2 separate regions of the Homo sapiens genome follow, and region 2 is linked to region 1. Evidence: fine-mapped expression QTL. A gene starts in region 1. The other region holds a variant in brackets. All regions are shown on one strand. Distances are from middle to middle.

Region 1 (12,423 bases):
AATCCAATCTAATTGTTCAGTGGCAGTGTCTTAACAATCTTTAAATACCTGAAGGACATCTGCTAATCTGACCCAAGCTATTACCCCTCCTATTCTCCCAATACCTACCACAATGCCCTCAGAAATACCATCGGTCATCAGTCAGCTTCTCTATACACAAAATCTTTCTCTGGATATTCACTTCACCTTCTTGACTTAACTAAAATCTGGTTGGTTCATGACACCCCATTTTCTCTACAGCCCCCTAACACACAGGCAACTTTTCTTTCACAATTCAGGGCCCTAGAAGTAGAAGAGGCATCCCCTTTGCTCCCTTTCACCACTGTCAAACCTGTTTTAAGCCCCATTTTTGTAATAACTCATGTCACCATAATATGGCATCATCTACCTTTCTTAGTGCCTAATATTTTCTGAAGTCTTAGACACTCCTTTCATTTACTAAAAATGTTAACACCTGGATCAAAACCTTCTTTTCCTAGCCCCTATACTATGATCATTCTTAGCAACTTCAATATCCATAGAAATAGTTCTATGCCTTCATTTCCAACAATCTTTTCCTTTACCCTAATTTACCAACCGAATGACAAAAATTATACCCTTAATTTATCACTAAGTGAATCTCTGAAATCTCAATTTCAAATATCACTCCCAAACACCTATCCTTCTACCTCACTTCTTTTAATTCTACCACTCTAAAAAGTGTTTGACCTAACTAAAACCTCCTATATAGAATATACAAACCCTATTTTTCTGTCATTCATTACCCCCCTCATGTTTTTCTTTACTTTCCAGCCCAGATTCCACATATCTTCTCTATATGATAATCATTCCCTTAAAAACACCTGCAAATCCACCTGTTCCATTTACTATAACTGAACATTGGTTAAATCTAGCTATTTACCTATTTCACTTCTGTACTTCTAATGACAACAGGTCTTTTTTAACCGCAACTAAACATTCAGACTCCTAAGACTACCAAAATTCACCAGTTTACTGGTCCTGAGAAACTTACAGGAAATGTTGTGTCAGCAAAGGATTGTCAGGCATTTTTCAATACACTTGTTTTTTTTCCTTGCAGCAGTCCATAAATTTTCATTATTAGCAGATAATAAAATGATCTACTTAGAATACTCAAGGGAATTAATGTAGAATTATTAAAATTCGTTAACAGGCCAGACGCAGTGGCTCCCACCTGCAATCCTAATGCTTTGGGAGGCTGAGGAAGGAAGACTGCTTGAGCACAGGAGTTCAAGACCAGCCTGAGTAACATAGCAGGACCTCATTTCTATTAAATATTAAAAAAAAAAAATTAGCTGGGCGTGGTGGTGCAGGCCTGTAGTCCCAGCCCCTTGGGAGGCTGAGGCAGGAGAACCACTTGAGCCCAGGAGATCAAGGCTGCAGTGAGCCATGATCATGCCACTGAACTCCAGCCTGGGTGACATAGTAAGACCTTGTCTCAAAAAATATAAAATAAAATAATATTAGTAATAGTTGAATAAGACTAGATACCTCAACTATCTATAAAAATTGATAGTGTTTCTATAAAACTGCAAAAGTTTCTTAGATGAGAGGGAAAAAAATCTAATTTACAAAAGCAACAGAAAATATAAACTATACAGAAATAAAGCTAACACAAATGTGCAATGAAAAAACAACACAAGCCTGGGCGCGGTGGCTTACGCCTGTAATCCCAGCATTTTGGGGGGCTGAGGTAGGTGGATCATCTGAGGTTAGGAGTTCCAGACCAGCCTGGCCAACATGGCGAAACCCTGTCTCTACTAAAAGTACAAAAATTAACTGGGCCTGGTGGTGGGCAGTGGTAATCCCAGCTACTTGGGAGGCTGAGACAGGAGAATTGCTTGAACCTGGGAGGCAGAGGTTGCAGTGAGCAGAGATCGTGCCATTACACTCCAGCCTGGGTGACAGGGCAAAAGTCCATCAAAAAAAAAAAAAACACACACACACAAAATTGTATTAAAGGATACAAAAGATGACCTGAATTAATGGGGAGATGTACTTTGATCTAATTTAAAACAAAATGACAACAGAGTTTTTATGAAACTTGATAATATGGCTTTAAAACTCAAAGAAAAGAAAGAATGAGAAGGTCTAAGTTGATGATGAAAATGAAGAACGAGGGAAAAACTGTCCTATCTGATGTTGATGACATTTTACAAAATAGCTATTAAAGTGGTGGTGTAATAAGGGAACAAAAGTCACATAGATAAATACAGCAGAAGTAAGAGACCAGAAACTGGCCCACACAGATATGAAAATGTAATAAAAAACAGAAACCATATTATAAATCAGAGATATATCTGGTTTCTGTACAGGGAAAAACTAAAAATTAGATCCCAAGTTCACAAAATATACACATGTACACAAGTACAGACACACACACACACACACACACACACAATCCAGAAAAAATTTTAAAAAGTGAAAATATAAAACATTAAAGTTTTTAGAATATATGAGAATAGCTTTTTGAATTCAGAGTAAAGAATACTTTTTTAGACAATACATAGAAAACAAAAATAAAATTCAAATACTGCACAAAATTCAAGGATAAGCAACATCTTATGGAATACAGCTGAAGGATTAGTATTGAAAATATATTTTAAAAGCAACTGAAAAAAACTCAAAAAATATTTGACAATATACAGTTGAAAAATGCATGTAACTCAAGTGTACAAAAAATGTAATATGCAGTTCATAATAGAGGAAATTAAAATAACTATACAAAAAAAGATTGATTTCATAATCAGAGAAATGCATTAAAAAAGAATGTAGACACTGACTTCATACCTTTTACATAGAGTAATTCAAATGTATCACAGATCTAAATGTAAAATACAAAACTATCAAACTTCTAGAAGTTGGCAAAGAGTTTTTAGACACACCAAAAGCATGATCCATGAAAGAAGAAATTGTCAAGTTGCACTTCATTAAAATTAAAAACTTCTACTTCATGAAAGACACTGTTAAAAGAATAAAAAGACAAGCCACAGACTAAGAGAAAATATCTGCAAAATACACATCCAAAAAAGAACTTGTATCCAAAATACAGAAAAATTTTTCTTTTTTTTTTTTTTTTTTTTGGAGACAGGGTCTTATTCAGTCACCCAGAGTGGAGTGCGGAGTGCAGTAGTGTGATCATGGCTCACTGCAGCGTCCACTTCCCAGGCTCAGGTGATCCTCCTATTTCAGCCTCCCAAATAGCTGGGGCTACAGACGCAAGCCACTAGGCCTGGCTAGTTTTTTGGTTTTTTTTTTTTTTTTTGAAGAGACGAGCTTTTGCCACATTGCCCAGGATCGTCTCGAACTCCTGGACTCAAGGGATCTGCCCACCTCGGACTCTCAACTTGCTGGGATTACAGGCATGAGCCACAACACCTGGCTCCACAAATTCTTAAAGTTCAACAATAAGAAAAAGACATAAGATCCTAAATGTGTACACACCAACAATAGAGTCTCAAAATACATGAAACAAAACCTGACAGAGCTGAAAGGAAAAATAGATAAATTTACAATTATAATCAGGGATTTCAACAACCCCTTCTCAAAAATTGATAGAACTACTAGACAGTACTACTATAGAAAACAAGCAAGGATATAAATAATCTGAACATAAACAACAGGATCTAGTGACATACATATAACATTCCACCCAACAAAGCAGAATACACTTTTTTTTCCCAAGTATCCACAGAACATGACCAAGATAGCTCGTGTCTTGAGCCATAAAACAGGCCTCAACAAATTTAAAAGAACTGATATCACAGAGAGTTTGTTCTCCAATCATAACAGAATAATGGAGTCAAAATAGAACTCAATGCAAAGTCAGAGAGTCCAGGACAGTCCAGATGCTACTGGGTTAGTGACAATAAAAAGAATACCCTCTGGAAACTAGACAGAAAGTTCCAAAACTACTCTCAATGTAGCTGAAACATTTTATATCTGCATTAAAATTCTTTTCCATAATGTACTTTTATATTTCAGTAACAGCAAATGAAAAATGTTATAGACATAAAATGGATTTCAAAACACATCTGTAGTAAGCTGACTTACAAACCAACTTTTAAAATACCACATATTAAATTGAGGCTGTAAACTTATAATTTATAATGAAATGAAAACTTTACCTTCCAATGGAATGTCTAAAAGATTGGCATGCTTTGTTTTCACATGAGTTTCCATATCTTCACTGTGCTCCTCTATTTTTCCACAGAATGGACATTCAGGAGGACTGTATGTTGTTTCATAAACAGATCCTTTTATTTCGGTCAGGCTGGACTGTTTTTCCCTACTTTTCAGGAATTTTCTAGATTCAGTTAAGTTCTCTGAATAGAAGCCTTCATGTTTTAAAGTACTATCTTTAGTCAGGTTTTGAGCTGAATTTTTTGGATGATTAGATGCACAACCTGAAAGAATACTTGAATTAACTTCCATTCCACACTGTAGGGTGTTGTCTTTCTTGTTATCTGAAGTTCCATATTGTACTGTATTTATCCTCTCAAAGTTTCTTTCAAGTGTATTCTGCTCAAAATGAGCTGTTTCGATATGAAAACACATTTCATCATAATTCACACCTGACAACTTGCAAAATGGACATATAATTTCACTTTCCATGTGAACAATTAGGTGAGCTTTCATGTCTGGTTCTGAGGTTACTGTTTCACCACAAATATTACAGGAAAGCATGGTATTGACAAGTAGCTAGAAAAGAACATAACATTAGGTTTCAAAGATTTGAAGAAAAAATGTGTTTCATAAAATGATTTGAGACAATTACTTGGTCTTTAACGCTGGATTATTTTGATGAAGAAGTTTTCAATGTACTTACTGTTCCTCAAATACAAAAACTTATTTATAAATATCAACCAAAATTTCATTTATTTTTTTTTAAAAAAAGGCAATAATAATGAATACAAGTAATTTTAAAAATAAAATATTTCAAAAAATGTCTCTGGCCCAAGGTGGAGAAAAAATAACGTTTAAAAAATTGTCCAGGTAAGATAAATCAGGTAAGAAAAAAATGAAGAGAAGAAACCTATTTATCAACTGATATATCTAAATACTGAATACTGAAGCTGATTATATTGAGGAGGTAAATAAACACATCTTACAAGTAGAGTTTAACACTGTAAACTTAGAGTCTTACATGTATCAAGTGCTATTTAAGTGCTATTATTGTAATTTAAGTACTATTATTATCGCTCTACACATAAAGAAATTCTGGCTCAGACAGGTCACCACAAGCAGAAAAAGGTGGAAGCCAAAATGCCAACCCCGTCGTGCTCCACAGCCTGTACTCTCAGCCCCAAGAATAAAAGCAGAAGTGGTATAGTAGAAAAAAGCACTTATTCCAGAGTCAAGAGAACTGGGTAATAATTTCAGATTCATCATTTTGGGTAAGGAATCTCATCTCTCTGAGGTTCAGTCAAAGACTACTGTAAAATCCAAAGGTAGTTATTTTTGGATTTTATGGACAAATAAAGTACTGACTACTGACATAAAAGTGTTAAAAAAATAATTTTAAAAAAAGCAATCACTTCGCCACCACCTTCCTACTACAGGTCATCGTTCAGCTAAAGACTATTTAAAATCAAACAGGAAAAGTAATGACACTATCACTTCATTTAAATAAATTTACCTTTAAAATACCTCCCTACATTGTCCTTATTTTTTTCATTTCTCTCCAGACAAATGGATACAGTCTCTGATTTTAGAAGGCAGTTCTCCCGAGCCCCCAGTGGGATTAATGTCACACCCGGAGTTTCTTCTCTTCCGGTGGCTGGGACACGGTCAGACACAGAATGATGAACTTGGACATGGACTCAGATTAAGCGGGTAAGAGACAAGAGAGTACCCAGGTGCCTCAGAGGAAGCGAGTGAGAGGCATGAAGGACCCAGTGCCAAGCTAGGTACGTGGTGGGTGAGGTCAGAAGACCGCAAGGCCGAGTCTCCCAAACGTTCCGCGCCAAAGGCACAAGCCAGGCACACGAAACTAGCAGGCACTAACTGGGTCAAAGCTTTGGGCCTGGGGAATAAGGGAGGGGACCATCAATTCTTACCGGCCCAGAGGCCAGCAGCTGCCACACTGAGCTCCGCTAGGCTTCCCCTTTGGGCCTCGCTGGCAGACGAGTGCGTGCGCGGCGTCCAGTACCTCTCCTGGCCTGATGACTGAGGCCAGGCCTTCCCAATACGCAGAGTTTCACAGTTAACCGAGGAAAGAATTAGGAACTTCCAACACCTTGGCCCTCAGTACCTCATTCAAAAGCACTTCCTTACTCCCACGGAAAAGAAGTAATCCCAGAATGCGCCGCTCCACGCCGGTCTCTATGCAGTGCATTCTGGGAGATGTAGTCTTTTTTTTTTTTTTTTTTTTTTGAGACGGAGTCTCGCTCTGCTGCCCAGGCTGGAGGGCAGTGCGCGATCTCGGCTCACTGCAAGCTCCGCCTCCCGGGTTCACGCCATTCTCCTGCCTCAGCCTCCCGAGTAGCTGGGACTACAGGCGCCCGCCACCATGCCTGGCTAATTTTTTGTATTTTTAGTAGAGACGGGGTTTCACCGTGTTAGCCAGGATGGTCTCGATCTCCTGAGAGATGTAGTCATTTTTGCATTCCTCCCATTTCCGAGTTTTTCCTTCTCCCATCGAGTTTCCTGCCACTCAATTGCTAGGAGAGAAAACCGGGCTCTGAGGTCATTCATACTTAATCTGAATGAGTTCACAGGGCAGGTCCTGGGGCAAATAGCAGTCTACACTAGGGCCTGCTGAGTAGCACTCTATTTTAGTATCAATAAAGGGTTTATAATGCTGCTAGGTATCAAGCTCCCAGCTATGCACCGAAGGTAAAGGATACCAGGTTCTTTCCTCAAGGTTACAAGATAACAAATATCTTGGTTTGTATGTATGTATGTATGTATATATATATATTTTTTGAGACGGAGTCTTGCTCTGTCGCCCAGGCTGGAGTGCAGTGGTGCCATCTCTGCTCACTGCAAGCTCCGCCTCCCGGGTTCACGCCATTCTCCTGCCTCAGCCTCCCAAGTAGCTGGGACTACAGGCGCCCGCCACCACGTCTGACTAATTTTTTGTATTTTTAGTAGAGATGGGGTTTCACCGTGTTATCCCGGATGGTCTCGATCTCCTGACCTCGTGATCCGCCCCCCTCGGCCTCCCAAAGTGCTGGGATTACAAGCGTGAGCCACCGTGCCCGGCCGTATGTATGTATTTTTAGAGAGGAGGACTCTTTCTGTCACCCAGGCCAGAGCACAGTGGCTAAAATAGCTCACCGCAGCCTCGAACTCCTGGCCTCAAATGATCCTCCCATCTCGGCCTCCCAAAGTGTGAGCCACCATGTTAGCCCAAAATCACAAATATCTTGTCATTCAGGCTTTATTTCATTCAACAAATATTTAAAGAGTGTCTATTAGAAAGGCGTTTTGCTTGCAACAGGAGCTGCAGCAGTAATCAAAATACACAAAATTCAGGATTTTTGAGGCTTACATGCTGGTGAGGTAGAGGAAATAAAAAGTAAATTAACTGATCATGATAAGTGCTATGAAGAAAATAAAACTGGATTGGCCAGGCTCAGTGGCTCACATATGTAATCCCAGCACTTTGGGAGGCCGAGGCGGGCAGATCATTTGAGGTCAGGAGTTCAAGACCAGCCTGGCCAACATGGTGAAAGCCCGTCTCTACTAGAAATACAAAAATTAGCTGGGCGTGGTGGCAGGTGCCTGTAATCCCAGCTACTCGGGAGGCTGAGGCAGGAGAATTGCTTGAACCCGGGAGGCGTAGGTTGCAGCGAGCTGAGATCGTGCCACTACACTCCAGCCTGAGTGACAGAGCAATAGATTTTTGAGACTGAGTCTCAAAAAAAAAAAAAAAAAAAGAAAGAAAGAAAGAAAAGAAAACTGGATTATAGAGATACGAATGTTTAGAAAAGGTCTTGATGAAGGGTTGAGTGTGCTGATGAACAAACCTTACACCAACAGGGGAAATAGCATTTCAGACAGATAAAATAACAAGAACGAAGGCCTAAGGCTGGAGCAAAAAGAACACTTTTTGACCAGAGCATAATGTGGTAAGGAGAAAAATGATTACAAGATGAGGTTAGGGTTGTAGACAGGGGCCAAATCATGTAGGACCTGGTAGAAAACTAGTGAGGTATTTAAATAGGAGGGTGATGTTATCTGATGATAAATAGTATGTTTTTAAAAATTGGCTAGGCGCGGTGGCTCACGCCTGTAATCCCAACACTTTGGGAGGCAGAGGCGGGCAGATCGCATGAGCCCAGGAATTCCAGACCAGCCTGGGCAACATGGAGAAACCCGTCTCAACCAAAAAAATACAAAAATTAGCTGGGCGTGGTGATGTGGCCTGTAATTCTAGCTACTCGGGAGACTGAGGTGGGAGGATCACCTGAGCCCCAGGAGGTTGAGGCTGCAGTGAGCCATAATGGCACCATTGCACTCCAATCTGGGCGACAGAATGAGAACCTGTCTCAAAAAAAAAAATCGTTCTGGAAATTTGTGGACAAACATGGAAGATTAAACATGTAAATTTATATTTCTCTGCCTCTCAAAATCTATTAAAATGATAGCAGGAAAATAAAAATAATACTACTAACAGCTAATGAGATTTTACAAAACTTTGAAAGCTAAAAAAAGATGAATGATTAATAACGAACTTAACTCAGAACCGATGTCAACAAAAACCAAGTCAAGTCATACTGTCTTGACTTGTATGGGTTTCTGCTTGCCCAGCACAGCAGCTGGGGTCTGCTTGCCCAGCACAGCACAGCCAAACACTGACACTGGGATAGCAGCAAGAGAAAGTTGAGGCATTTATTGTAGGGCACCAAGGAAGGAGAATTGAGTAGCTCATGCTTAAGACCTGAACTCCCACATTGCTTACAGGTAAGAGTTTTTAAAGGTGAGGAGGCAGAGGTTACAGGCGACGTCATAAATCAATACACGGAAGCTATACGTTGGTTTGATTTTAAAAGGCTGGACATCTTGAAGTGGTTCGGGGCACAGGTTACAGGTGGATTCAAAGATTTTCTGACGTTTGATTTGCTAAGGAGGCAAAGCTTTGTCTAAAAATTTGGGATCAGCAGAAAAGAATATTAGCTCTCGCTCAGGGGTGTGATCTCCTCCAGGCCCCTCAGGAAGAAATTCAGAACAAAGAACAGCGATCAGGATTTAGTCTTCAGTTTCCCATTATCAGGGGTCAAATCATGTTGGACAGTAGATCTGTTTGGTGGGGGATCTGGGTTTCTGGAAAACAACCCAGGGACATATGTTAAAATGTTATCTTAAGTTTCTATAGGGAATAAAACATCTCCTGACTTTTTTGGGCCAATGTTTTAAGCTACTATTACCTTTTTGTTTATCAAATTGCTCATTTATTTCTCAGCGCTAGCTAGGTTCCTGGAATTTTCCTTGAAGGAACTCAATATTTTCCTTTATTTCCATGCTTGGGGGTTGCCCACGGGCCCCTAAGTAGGGTCCCTACTCCATCTTAATACACTCCTCCTTCCCAGAAATCTGAAAATTCCAGAAATTAAACACAAGATACTTCTAAAAATGATGGTGACATTTGGAACTAAATAAAGGATCATTTTACTGAAAGTCTGAATAAGGAACAGTTAGAACTCCAACTCTAGATTTTCTCCATCACCAGTGTGATGGTTAATTTCTCCTGAAACATTATTTCTTATTATTTCCCAGGAAGCTCCCGCCAAATGAGGGAAGAAGCAAAGAAAGTGGAAGGTATGGGGCCAGGCATGGTGGCTCACACCTGTAATCCTACACTTTGGGAAGCCGAGGCAGACAGATTGCTTGAGCTCAGGAGTTTGAGACCAGCCTGGGCAATATGGTGAAACCCCGTCACTACCAACTTGACTGAATTGAGGGATGCCTAGATGGCTGGTGAAGCATTGTTTCTAGCTGTATCTGTGAGGGTGTTTCCAGAGGAGATTGACCTGTGAGTCAGTGGACTGAGAGAGGAAGACCTACCCTCAGTGTGGCAAGCACCATACAGTCAGCTGAGGGCTAGGCTGGGGCAAACAGGAAAGAGAGGGAATTCTCTCTCTTTGCTCTCTCCCTTCTGGAACAAGACACCTTTTTCCTTCCTGCTTTTGGACATCAGATTGCACCATATTCATCTTTTAGACACTGGGATTCGCACGAGTGGCTTCCCAGGAACTCTTGGGCTTTTAGCCTCAGAGTGGGGGCCAAACCCTCTGCTTCCCTGGTTCTGAGGCTGCTGGGACTGAGCCACATTACCAGTTTCTCTGGTGCTCTAGCTTGCAAGATGGCCTATTGTGGGACTTCCACCTCTGTGATCATGTGTCAATTCCCTAATAAATTGCCTCTCGTATATAGTATTGGTTATGTCTCTCTGAAGAACTCTAATACAGCTAGGTTGCCATGAGACTCCTCTTTCCCTTCCAGATAGAAGACTACAGATTTAGTTCATGAAGAAAACGAACCAAAAAAACCAGCTATGAACCCTATCCTGGGGGTTCAAAGGCTTGACCCTATCCTTAGGGTAAAGGCACTGGACTGAAAATGGGAAATAGGGAAGGCTAAATACTAAATTATGAACCTCTTGCTCCTTTTCCCCCATCACATCTTGATATGTGATTTCTGCCTCCAAGGCAGGAGGTTGGAAAATTCCTCCCCAGAGAAATCAATTGTCCCAAGAGAAAGACCTAACAGATGTCAACTTTTAGGAAGTTATCCAATGATACAGCCAGGTCCCTATTTTACCACTCTGTGGGAAGGCTGCCAATTGGTGAATAAACAAGCCCCACTGACGCACAGTGTATAGAAGGTTTCTTTAATGTCTTATTCTTAAATATGAATAGATACTCAAGGGTTCCAGGCATTTGAGTACAGCCTATGGCAAGTAAGATGGAGAGCTAAACAATAATCATAGTTTAAAAAGTAAGCTCTGAAGAAAAAAAGAAAGAGAAAAAAATTTCAATGGAAACCACAATTAATATCCTCAGATAGATAAGAAAATGTATTGAATCTCTAAATCCAAAATAGGAAATAGCTGTTGGGATTAAAAATATTTCATACTTTAAAATACACATATTAATAGAGGCCTGGAAGATAAAGCCCAAGAAATTTCTCAGAAAACAGAACAAAAAGAACAAGGGATAGAAAAACAGGAAAGGAAAATAATCAAATGAGAAATTGGATTCTACATCCAACTAATAAGAGATACAGAGAGGAATAACAACAAAAACAATGGAAAATTAGTTATCAATGAAATGACATGATAATTCATGACTTAATAATAATTTCTCCTGAAACATTATTTCTTATTATTTCCCAGGAAGCTCCCACCAAAATGAGGGAAGAAGCAAAGAAAGTGGAAGGTATGGGGCCGGGCATGGTGGCTCACACCTGTAATCCTAGCACTTTGGGAGGCCGAGGCAGGCGGATTGCTTGAGCTTAGGAGTTTGAGACCAGCCTGGGCAATATGGTGAAACCCCGTCACTACCAAAAATACAAAAAATTATCCGGACGTGGTGACGTGTGCCTGTGGTCCTAGTTACTGAGGAGGCTGAGGTTGGAGGATCATTTGAGCCCAGAAGGCAGAGGTTGCAGTGATCCGAGATCACACCACTGCACTCTAGCCTGGGTGACAGATTGAGACCCCATCTCAAAAAAAAAAAAAAAAAAAAAAGAAAAGAAAAGAAAAGAAAAGAAAAAAAGAAAGTAGAACGTATGGAATTCCATAAAAAACTCTACCAAGATGAGAGAGAACAGACAGGAATGAAGGCAGAAAGGAAGAAAAAGAAAGGGAGGGAGGGAGGAAAGAGGCAACTGACAGATCACTTCATGTTTATGACCATACTGAGAGAAATATATTCTGTTAAGCAGAATAGTGTCCCTCAAAGATGTTTATGTCCTGGCCAGGCATGGTGGCTCACACGTGTAATCCCAGCACTTTGAAAGGCCAAGGTGGGAGGATTGTTTAAGGCTAGGAGTTGGTGACTAGCCTGGCCAACATAGTGAGACCCGCCCCCCCCGTCTCTAATATTAAATTTTTTTAAAAGATTCTATTTCCTTATTAACAGAACCTGTGAATATCTTACTTTTCATGGCAAAAGGAATTTGTAGATGTGATTAAGGATCTTGACAAGAGGGGTTTATCTAGGTAGGCACAATGTAATCACAAGGGTCCTCATGAGAGGGAGACAGATAGGAAGGTCAGTCTTAGAAAAGGAGATGCGATAACAGAAACAGAGGTCAGAGAGATGTAATTGCTGAAAGGGGTCCAGAAGCCAAGGAATGTAGGTAGCTTCAAGGAACTGGAAAAGGCAAGGAAATGGATTCTCCCCTATAGGCTCCAGAAGAAACACAACTTTGCTGACACCTTGATTTTAGCCCAGT
Region 2 (12,423 bases), 88 kb after region 1:
TATCTATGACAAGGATCTTCCTTCTTTTCCCAACAGTTTAACCAAGTATTTTAAAAGATGTTTAAAAAAATATTTTGTCCAGATTATTTAGTCCAATACTAGAAGACTTTCTCTGGACATCTCATCTTCTATGTAACCAGAAATGGAAATCATCATATTCATTCTTATAGATATTCTCTCTGAGTATCTCAATATTTAGAATATTCCAGGAATCCTCAAGGTATAAAAAGACTTTTAAAGAGTAGTATAATTTTAAGATAATTGATTTCCAGTTATTTTAACCCCATATATACTCCCTCCTACAATGTATATGCCCAAGAATGTGGTCTGACGGTTCTCCTTTCTCACCTCTCCTCATAACCAACCTTACACTATTGTGCAAAAAGAGAGCACTTCACTCTCATTCTGAACCTTACTCATGCTGTGCTTTGTGATACAAAAACCTTCTGGATGACAAAGAATAATTTTAGAATTAATAGCTCCAGAGAGGGAGTTCCATGAGAGCAAAACAAAGGGAGTCACTGTGCAAAATGTGAAAGCAGCCAGTGCCACAGTGGGTCTCACGAAGACAGAGCATAGACAGGTGGTTACCAGAGGCCAGAGAGAGTGGTGGAGAGAGGGCAATGAAGATAAGTTGATTAACAGGTACAAACATATGGTTTGGTAGAAGAAGTAAGATCTAGTGTTAGATAGATCAGTAGGGTGACTATAGTTTACAGTGATCTATTGTATATTTCAAAATAGCTAGAAGAGAATCATTCAAATGGTTCTAGCATAAAGACAAATATTTAAGGTGACAGATAAGTACACTGATTTTATCTTTACACCTTATAAGAATATATCAAATTATCTCATGTACCCTGAATTTATGTACATCTATTGTGTATAAATTTACAAATTAAAAAAAAAATAAAGCAGCAGTGCCTTGGTTCATCCAAGACACAGACTCATAACAATGCTTCATGCCTTCTCTATCTAAGAGTTAGGATTCAAAAATGAGATTATTGTCACAGGAATATATATTAACATTTTCATTTTCAAATCAAAGTAAGCCTTTTTCTAACAAAAAGTATAGTTACGTGCCACATAATGACATTTTGGTGTAAGATGAATGAACCACATATACAACAGTGGTCCCCAAGGTCATAGGGAGCATACATAGAAGTCTGATATATGGCACTTGGTATTGGCACTGCAGATCAAGTAGGGGACATGACTGATAATTCAGTAATGGTGCTGGGACGTTTGGTTTTCCATATGAAAAATACATATAAATAAAAATATATATACTATCTAGGTTTATGTAAGTATACTCTGTCATGTTTGTACAATGATAAAATCACCTAACAATGCATTTCTCAGAATGTATCCCCATCATTAAATGATCTGTGACTGTATAAGTTTGATTTGGCTCATTAGTTTGACAATAAGAACTGGCTTTGTACCTCAAAATGGACAGGCAGACATCCTCCACAAACTGATTGAGCTAATTATGTGGCTTCAAGGTTATGATGGAAAATACACTTAAAGCACATGAACTATACAATATGCCAGAAGTTATATCTTTTATAATACTTACATTTATGGTTAAAAAATAACAAATGTGAAGTTAAAAATGTGCAGGGATGAGATATGTAATTTTAAAAAGTTATTTTAGGGCTTAAGCAAGTTTGACGATCATTAATGTATACCATTTTTTTTCTCTAACATTTTTGTCATTTTCAAAATTGCTGTTACAATTACTGTTTTAGTACTTTACCATTTTAGGAATAGGTTTTAGAATTAATAATTCAACCTATTTCACCTAGTTACAAACTATAAAAAGAATAATCAGAGGTACTACCCAGCTGCTAAATACAGTGAAATTTTGGTTGAAAATTAGTTTTGATTTTAATGAGCCCTTAATGATTAGTTCAACCTCATTTTAATGACATATACAATGTGCTCATTTTAGCATTATATGTAGTGGCCAGAAACTGTGCCAAATATCAAAATAAATTGTGGTATGTTTATACAACAGAATACAGCAATGACAATGGATGAACTAATGGTACACACAATTTGTGGATTAACCTTATAACTGTCAGGTAAATAATCCACACACACAAGTGCATAATGTATAAATCCATTTATATAAAGTTCAAAAACAGGCAAAATGAATCAAAGGTGATGAAACTCAGAAAAACTGCTATGTTTGGGAGGTAATGGCTGAGAAAAGGCAGGAATGAGGCTGTGAAGTGTTGCCAATATTCTACATCTTCACTTTGGCAGTGGTTACACAGGTGTTCACGACATAAATATCTATCAGACTGTATACAGTTTTGTCCACTTTTTGAATGCATGGTATACTTCAGTAAAAGTTTACTAAAAAATAAAAATAAAAAAGACATTGTGCTTCTTGTTACCAAAATAAAACCATGGCAGATATTTTGGTAAATATTCTATTTTTCCCATCTTCTACTGTTGCTGATGACAGGGATGGTATTCAGGTGAACACTTTGTCACTTAGAATATCATTTAGCTTTAGCCTGTGCAGCCAATGCAGCTTCTTCACGCCACTTAGCTTTCTTTGCCAAGTTCCAACTTGTTAAGGATTCATGTCGTTCTACAGCCTGTGGGGGGGAAGAAATATATATATATATATATATATAGATACACGTATATATATATATATACATATATGTATATATATCTCACTGTGACTCTCTGGAAACTGGAAAAATTTGTATTTGAGATAGAAATACACAGGAGGGAATAGAATTAGAAGTTCTAACATATGTTAATAATGGGAAGAGAGAACAGACTGAATGGGTAAAGAGGCCATATTTGAAGTTATGACAGCATAGACTTTTTCAGAAGTGAGGAAAGCTATAAGTCCTCAAACTGAGAGACATACAAAGTCCTTAGTAAAATAAATAAGCATTTAATATATATTGAAGGATACCTAGTGTGCATCTCACATTTAATATAGCCAAAATAGAGAGTTGACATATTTTGTTCCCCCTGCCTACCAGTCTTTCCCTAGCCATACACATCTCAATAAATGGCAGCATCACCCACCTACTTGCTAAAGTCAAAAAAACCCAGGCCTTTTCACTTCTTTATTCCATTTTCTTTTCTGCTTCCACAATGAATTCACCACAAAGTTCTATCCTTTTTACTTCCCCAAATTTACCTGAACTTGCTAACCTTTTCTGCATCTCCATCTGCCACAATTTCTTTAAGGTACATGCATTGTTATTAAAAATGAAAAATGAATTGGAGACAGGCAAGAGGGACAGTGGTGGGACCATTTAGAAGATATTGCAATGAACCAGGCAATAGATGTATATTGGTATCTCAGGAGAGATACTGAGGAGTGCTCCAATTTGGCTGTATTTTGAAAGTGGAGCCAATGGGGTTGCTGATGACTTATCCACGAGCAGCTAGAAAGATAGAGTTGACATCAACTGAGAGGAGGAAAACAGTACAGAAAAGGGTGGCTCAGGGTTGTCTGGGGGAAGATCTAGAGTTCAACTTTTGACACGTTAAGTTTGAGATTCCATTAGACATCCAAAGGGAAATGTTAAGTAAGCAACTGACTATATGAATTTGAAGTGCAGAAGGAAGACATTAGCTGAAATATAAATTTGAGAGTCCTTGGAATATAGAAGGTGTTTAAATCCAGAAGACTTGGTAAGATCCCCAAGGGAGTGAGTGTAGCTAGAGAACGGAAAGACTAAAGACTGATCCATGGGGAGATTCCACTGTTATGAGGTCCAGGAGAATAGGAGAAACTGGCAGAGTAAACTTGGAAGACGTGGCCAACAGACAACCTACGTGAGTGTGGTACCACGGAAACCAAGCGAAGAAACCGTTTCATAAAAGATAAACGATTTTCATTCCCAATGCTCTCACTTCAGAGCTTCTGAGGATTTTTATGGAAGGACAATGGCTAGTTTGCATTCTCCAACAAAGGGTAAGTGAAAAATGTCACATTGGCCTATTCCAGTGTTTTTCATATATCCATTTATAACTAACTATTTCCCTATGTGCCAAAAATATTCTTTTCTTGGTTGAAGAATGGAGAGACTGGCTACTATGTGCCAGAATTTCTGTAGAGGAGTGGCTTTGAAGTGCAGGGAGACCAAATTCCTTTATAATCCAGATATTCTCAACCTAGACATAGTTTTAGCAGCTCCAGTAGATTGAACTCAGATTGAGCAGAATCTGAGGGAGGGAAGATACTGATTCAGCACTGATTCGGCAGAAGAAAATATTTGCTAATCAAGCAGAATTGTCAACTGCTTCCCCAAAATGTAATGAGATTTATCAGCACCCAAGCATTGAAACGTTGTGTCAAACTGAGTCTAAATAAACAGTCTTCAAAGTAGGATAAGAACTACGATGTCCACTGAGGTCAAGAAAGCAATAGGAACACATTTCATCTTTTTTTAAAAAGAAAAATTGCTAACATTTAATAGAAGAGTTGAGGAATAGAGAATCCTCCTCTATGTCAGGAGTTGGAGATATCTTGAGGAACCTGTGACAGTTCTATAATACAGAAGAATATAAAGGCACATCTCATTTTATTGTGCTTTGCTTTATTGTGACTTTCTTTCTTTCTTCTTCTTCTTTTTTTGTTTTTTTCAAATTGAAGGTTTGTGGCAACCTTGCATGGAACAAGTCTATAGGCTCCATTTTTCCAACAGCATGTGCTCACTTCGTGTCTCTGTCACATTTTGCTAATTTTTGCAATATTTCAAACTTTTTCATTTTCATAACATCTGTTATGGTAATCTGTAATCAGTGATTGCTGTTGTTACTATTGTACTTATTTTAGGGTGCCATAAGTATGCCCATATAAGACAGCTAACTTAATTGATAAACATTGTATGTATTCTCCACTCCATCCACTGGCCAGTCTCCCATTTCTCTCCCTCTCTTTGGGCCTCCCTATTCCTTGAGATGCAACAATATTGAAATTAGGCCAATTAATAACCCTATAATGGCCTCTACATGTTCAAGTAAAAGGAAGGGTTGTACATCTCTCACTTTAAAAAACTAGAAATGATTAAGCTTAGTGAAAAAAGGCATGTTGAAAACCAAGATAGGTCAAAAGCTTGGCCTCTTGTGCCACGTTGTGAATGCAAAGGAAAAGTTATTGAAGAAAATTAAAAGTACTACTCCAGTGAACACCTAAATAAAGTGAAACAGCCTTATTACTGATATAAAAAACGTTTTAGTGGTCTGGAAAGAAGATCAAACCAGCCACAGCATTCCTTTAAGCCAAAGCCTAATATGGAGCAAGGCCCTAACTGTCTTCAGTTCTGTGAAGGCTGAGAGAGGTGGGAAAGCAGTAGAAGACAAGTTGGAAGCTAGCAGAGGTTGGTTCATGAGGCTGAAGGAAAGAAGCTGTCTCCATAACAAAAGTGCAAGGTGAAGCAGCAAGTGCTAATAGAGAAGCTACAGCAAGTCATCTAGAAGATCTATTATAGCTAATTTTGTTGATGAAGTCTATGCTAAAATACAGTTTTTCAATGAAGACAAAATAGCCTCATTTTGGAAGAAAATGCCATCTAGAACTTTCAGAGATAGAGAGAAGTCAATGCCTGGTTTTAAAGCTTCAAAGACAGGCTGACTCTCTTGTTAGGAGCTATTGGCAGCTGATGACTTTAAGTGGAAGCCAATACTCATTAGCATTCTGAAAATCCTAGGGCTCTTAAGAATTATGGTAAATCTACTCTGCCTGTGCCACGAATGGAATAATGAAGCCTGGGTGACAGCATATCTGCTTACATGGCTTTCTGAATACTTTAAGCTCACTGTTGAGACTTACTTCTCAGAAAAAAAAAGATTCCTTTCAAAATATTACTTCTCAGTGACAATGCACCTGGTCACTCAAAAGTTCTTATGGATATTTACAAGGAGATTAATATTTTCATGACTGCTAACACAACATCCATTCTTCAGCCCATGGAAAAAGGTGTCATTTCAACTTTCAAGTCTTGTTATTTAAGAAACACATTTTGTAAGGCTATAGCTACCATAGATAGTGATTCCTCTGATGGATCTGAGCAAAGTAAATTGAAAACCTTCTGGAAAGGAGTCACCATTCTAGATGCCATTAAGAATATTTGTGAATCATAGGAAGAGGTCAATATTAATAGGAGTTCGGACGAAGCTGATTCCAATCCTCATAGATAACTTTGAGGGGTTCAAGC[C/T]TTCAGTGGAGGAAGTATGAGGAAGTAACTGCAGATGTGGTGGAATAGCAACAGAACTGGAATTCATAGTGGAGCCTGAAAACAAAATTGAATTGCTATAATCTCATGATAAAACTTTCACAAGATGAGTTGCTTCTTACAAATAGCAAAAAGTGGTTTCTTGAGATGGAAACTACTGCTGGTGAAGATGTTGTGAACATTGGTGAAATTAGAACAAAGTATTTAGAATATTACATAAACTTAGTTAATAAAGTAGTGGTAGGGTTTGAGAGAACTGACTCCAATTTTGAAAGAAGTTCTACTGTGAGGAAAATGCTGTCAAACAGCATTGCCTGCTACATGGAAATCTTTCATGAAAGAAAGAGTCAACTGATATGGCAAACTTCATTGTCATCTTATTTTAAGAAATTGCCACAGCCACCCCAACCTTCAGCAACCACCATCCTGATCTGTCAGCAGCCATCAACATCAAAGCAAGACCTTCCACCAGCAAAAAGATTACAACTCATTGTGTACTATAAACATAACTTTTATATGCATTGGGAAACCAAAAAATTTGCGTGTCTCAGTTTATTCTAATATTCACTTTATTGTGAACTGAACATACAATATCTCTGAGGTATGCCTGTTTTCATTCATTTCAATACCATTAGAATAGATATTAATAAATAAGAATGGTTTCTTTTTTGGCCAGAAAATTACATGGCGTCTTTAAATACTTATATGGATAATTTTGTAAGCTTAAATAAAGTCTCTAAACAATTTATGGGGTTTTGAATCCATTTGGCACAAAATTCAAAACTACTATATCTTCCAATTATTTTGCAAGAATAAAATAGCTGAAGAACATCAGGGAGGGTAAGAAATTACTGGGCATATTTCAACAAAAGCTTTGGCATAGTTGGTGGATAAAATTAAGTATTAGCACCACCATTTAGTAATCACAGCTAAAGAGGTATTTCTTTTACTGGATCTATGTATCAATAAGTGTCTTATTTTCAGTTACAATATTATAATGAATATAAAATCGCAAAATTGTAGATAATAATAAAGCATTTCAGTTGTATTGTTACTATATGAAAATATGTTAAATATATAATACGGTATATGTCATACATGTTAATAAAATTTTAGGGAAAATGTTTTTGTGTCATTCACAAACAAAGTACAATTTATTGGATGCATGCAGTGGCTCGTGCCTGTAATCCCAGCACTTTGGGAGGCCAAGGCAGGAGGATCGCTTTGAGTTTAGGAGTTTGAGGCCAGCCTGGGTGGCATGGCAAAAACTCATTTCTACAAAAAATACAAAAAAATTAGCCCGGCATGGTCATTGACACCTGTGGTCCCAGATACTTAGGAGGCTGAGCCTGCAGAATCCCTTGAGCCTGGCAGGCAGAGGATGCAGGGAGCCAAGATCATGCCACTGCACTCCAGCCTGGGTGAGAGTGAGACCCTGTCCTCCTCCACCAAAAAAAAAAAAAAAAGGGGTGGGGTGGGGAGACCAACTGTGTCAAATGCTGATAGGTCAATGAAGATGAGTGTATCATTGGTGACCTTGATAACAGCAGTTTGATGGAGCGTTTGAGGCACGAGCCTGATCAGACGGAATGAGACAGGAAATCAGAGACAGTGTATATAGACAGGTCTACTGAAAAGGTTTGCCATAGAGAAATGCAGCTATACCAAAAGAAGTTTTGTTTTTGGTTTTGAAGAGGGAAGTAGAAACATTTCTATATTTTGATAAAAAATGATACAGTAGAGAAGAAAAACAACTAATGACGAGCAAATAAACCTGAGAATTCCTGGAATGAAAACCTTGAAAAGGCAAAATGGAATGGGATCCACGCAATTAATAAGAGCTTCTAGATTGGAGCAAGAATCATTTACAATAGGCAGAAAAGCAAAATATACAGGATTATGTGTCATAAGACTGGAAACTGCTCCTTGGGCTGCTACAATTCTCTCAGTGAGGTGGAAGGAAAGGTCATCAATGGGGAGGACTGTGGAGGTGTAAGGTCTGAAAAGACAGCATGAAATAGTTGGATGGCTAGACTTCTTTTCCTGTGTTTAAGAGGCATGTGCATTTTATTTTCTGCAAATTCTGCCTTTTTGTATCTTTCACCCATTTTTTAAAATAAAAGGTTGTTGCTGTTTTATTTAGTGGAGCTCCTTATAATTTAAGAAAATTAGCTCTTAGTTTGTGATCTATTTTGTATTTTTCCTAGTTTGTCATTTGTGTTTTTACTTTATTTATGGCACTTTTTACCAAGCAGAATTTTAAACTTTATATGATTAAATTTATCTATCTTTTCTGTTGTATAGCTTCTCAGTTTTGTTCTATATTTAGAAATGTCTACCTAACCACTATAAAGAATTCCCTCATATATTCTTTTGGTGATTTTAAGGCTTCACATTTAATGTGAAAATCTTATATCCAACTGCAATTTATTTTATGTAGAAAGTATAGTTGGAATGTCCCAATATCATTTCTTGACTAATTTATCTTTCTCCACTCATATACAGAGTCACTATTTCATATATTAAATCCCTATGTAGTGGGTTATTTATGTGATTTGAATTCAGTTCTATTAAGTTGCCTGTCTATTTGTATGTCAGTACTGCAGTTTTAATTATTGTTGTTGTTTTGTTTTAATATATTTTAGAGCTAGTCCTCCCTTAGAACTATTATTTTTAGTATTTTCTTGTGTATTTTGCTTATTTTTCTATATAAATTTTAGACTTAGTTTGTCTACTTCCAAAACAAATCCTATTGCTATTTTTATTGCAATCATGTCAACTTTATAGACTTAGAGAAGTTCGCTCTCTTTAAAATGTCAAGTCTTCCTATTCCAAATAAAAATTTCTTAGGTTATACCTTCTCTTGTGGCCACTGGTAGTGTTTAAAAGTTGCCTTTATATAGATATTGCATGATTTTTAATTTCATTCTTACGTGCCTTACCTTTTTTGTTTGTTGCTATTTTAAGTAGGATCCTTATTTCTAATCTTTCTTTCTTTTTTTTTTTTTTTTTATTTTTTGAGACAGAGTCTCTGTCGCCCAGGCTGGAGTGCAGTGGCACAATCTCGGATCACTGCAAGCTCCACCTCCTGGGTTCACGCCATTCTCCTGCGTAGCCTCCCGAGTAGCTGGGACTGCAGGCGCCCGCCACCACGCCTGGCTAATTTTTTTGTATTTTTTTTTTTAGTAGTGACGGAGCTTCACCGTGTTAGCCAGGATGATCTCGATTTCCTGACCTTGTGATCCGCCCGCCTCGGCCTCCCAAAGTGCTGGGATTACAGGCGTGAGCCACCGCGCCCGGCCTGATCTTTATTTTCACTGGGTTTTGAATAAAGAGGAGAGTGAAAATTTTTAAATCTTGTCACTATCTTGCTTAAAACTCTACACTGGATCCCCAATGTATTTTTAAAAACCTGAACTATTTGCAGTGATCCATAGGCCTGACACTATCTGGACTCTCCCTGTCTCATACCATCTTCTCTTTGCTCATTATACTCCATCCACACTAGCTCCTTTTTGTTTCTTAACACACCAGACCCTTTCTCACCTCTAAGCTTTGCACATGCTGTTCTTTCCTTCCCCCGGTCTTCTCATGGCTAGCTTATTCTCATCCTCCTCAGAGAGGACGTCCCTGACCACTCCATCAAAAATGGCCTCTCCTGGGGTGTTACTATTTTATCATCCTGTTCCTTTCCTTCATTGCACTAAGAATTCCTCAGATCTTTTTAGTTTATGTGTTTACTTGATCACTCTCCATTTTCCCTACTACAAAATACCTGTCTTTTAATTCCATGATATTCTAATAACTACATGCAGAGTGCCTGGCATGTCTCAGGTGCTCAAAAGTATTTAGTGTATTAATGATTTAAAATCAGTGTTTGCTATCACACTTTTGGAGAAGAGGAAACAGAGCAATAACTGGTGCTACACATAAAACTCAATTCTCAGTTGCTACTTTTTGTGTCAGATTCACACAGAGAAAATCCCTGGCTATTGATTTATAATAGAATTATATTTGAAATATGGAATTTTAACAGGAAATGAAAAAACCTTTCCTTCAAATCATATGTGTTGAAAATAAAATGATGACATCAGTAGATCTCTAATATGCCAACTTGCTGATAAAATATATATTAAGTTTAATTGGTCTTAATGTCTCATTTGGAAACTTGTGATTATGATTTAAAAACATTAAAGTGCCATTATAAATAAATTATTAGAGGGTGATTCTAAGTAAACAAATTGTCTAATTAATGTTTATCTTTTTGATGTAGATGAGGCAATACACTAATCATCAAAATATTCCTAGAAACTAGAGAATCATCAATTTGGCAGGCAGTCATTTAACGTTAGGTTAAAAACAAAATATTATCAAAGTTATTTATTTACATGCTTGAGTGTTCAGTCCAGTAAACATTTCAAAATTTCTCATTTGGTGAGAACAATTTCAAAGCATAGATTTTTTCCATGCTAATAGGAATGAAAGGACATTTATATAATATCAGTAGGCTTGTAAGTCCTAATCCCTGTGTGAAGTTAGTGGGCTCAGACACACTTGGGCACCTGAGGAGTAAAGGACAGAATCACAGAATTGGGCAGAATGGTAATTAGCTAAATACGCCCAGAGAGTGAGGATGTATGGAGCCAAGCAAACTATTCTGAATGATACGTATGCACTATTGAAACCCAGTGTTCACAACCAAAAATGTTATAATCCAGCTCTAATGGCTTCAGTTGCAGGTGCCACGATGAGGAGGGGCACTGTTAAAACTGGAGTGTATTGAGAGGACAGCTCAAAGGTAGAAGGAAGTTGTTAGAGTGGTTAAAACTGAAGAAGCAAATACTCATAGGTATGTGTTAGAAATGTCAAAATACTTGTGGGGCTGCTCTTTGTGGTAAAAAGTGACCAGTAGATGGAAGGATTTTGGGAGGCAGAAAACAAAATTAGAGGGTAGTCAGCTCTTAATTTCTCACTAGAGGTATTAAACAGAAACCATACATTGAGAAAGGCAAGGAAAGGGCTGACATAAAGGATCCAGACAAACTAGAATACCTTGGCAATCACTTCCAAGCTCTGCATTTCTAACTAGTTCATACTTCTGTGCAATAGCTAATTGAGTTCCTGATTTAATGAATGATCTAGTCTGGATAACTTTCAACAACAAAGTTCTCCGTCTTCTGCAGATTTTAACCACGGTGTAAATTGTTTTGTTTATAAGTTAAAACAAGCATTTGTCCCTCCTGGCCATATAGTGTTAATTTGTTGACTCAAATTTCCATGAACAAATTTATCTCCAGTATTTTTTATATATATATATACACATATATATACATATATATACACTTATATATATACTTATATATATACTTATATATACATATATACATATATAAATACTTATATATATACTTGTATATATACTTATATATACACACACACACACACACACATATATATATATATGACTTCAAGTCTCAAAGACAAAATTGTTCTTATATTAAAAAACAGCAGTAATCCTGAATCGAGAACAATGTCCATGACATTTCTTAAAATTCACCCTTTGGGCTGACTAAGGAGGTACTCACCCTTTTGGTGAGATACTCTTTTAGGGAGGTACTTAAAAAGAGGTACTTACCCTTTTAACTGACTTGCCCTTTTAAGGAGATACTCACCCTTTTGGCTGACACTATCACAGCAAAGCAGGCGATAATTGTGAGTCCAATCATTATGTAACAAGCTTTCACTCGAGCTTTGTTTCTTGCGGTGTCTATCATTTCTGGCCTAAACAAAGATGTGTATTTTGTTAAATATGTAAAAGTAATATGGTTTTCTGACAGGCATGATAGATAATTTGCCATGTAAACATTCCAAAAAATTCCCTGAATGCAAACTGCATTTGGTGACATTTTCATGTGAAAGACTTTGAAATGCTAGCTAGTTATTTTTACCAATTTCAAATTAACAAGTATTTATTCAGATCTTAAATTAATGTTAGCCATTATGAAACCACTGTATAGAATATTAGTTTCTAATTCCTCAAAATATAACTACTAGAGATGCTAACTTGACTCTCCATTGTTTTTATTCACTAAGTGGGGTAAAGGAAGAGTTAAAGCATATGTATGTTGATGACTTGCAATTATTTAGCCTCTTTGTAAAGTAGGCTTTGTTTTCCATTTGAACAGTTTTTTTTTTAAAACTC

Evidence for each region.
Region 2: its variant is fine-mapped to the expression of ZUP1 in lung (TOPMed, PIP above 0.99).

What each region holds. Positions count from the first base shown.
Region 1 is chr6:116,662,489-116,674,911 of GRCh38, forward strand. ZUP1 (zinc finger containing ubiquitin peptidase 1) reads right to left here and starts at 6,278. Exons shown (of 10, transcript NM_145062.3): 1 at 6,078-6,278; 2 at 4,146-4,719. The coding sequence starts at 4,704. RefSeq lists a silencer at 5,202-5,351 and an enhancer at 6,113-6,302.
Region 2 is chr6:116,750,084-116,762,506 of GRCh38, forward strand. It overlaps FAM162B (family with sequence similarity 162 member B), which reads right to left. Exons shown (of 4, transcript NM_001085480.3): 3 at 11,894-12,002; 4 at 2,114-2,612. The coding sequence ends at 2,514. Among named protein-coding and RNA genes, the nearest start is that of FAM162B, 9.4 kb to the right of the region's middle. RefSeq lists an enhancer at 2,916-3,085. The variant C/T (reference allele first, on the strand shown) is at 6,204.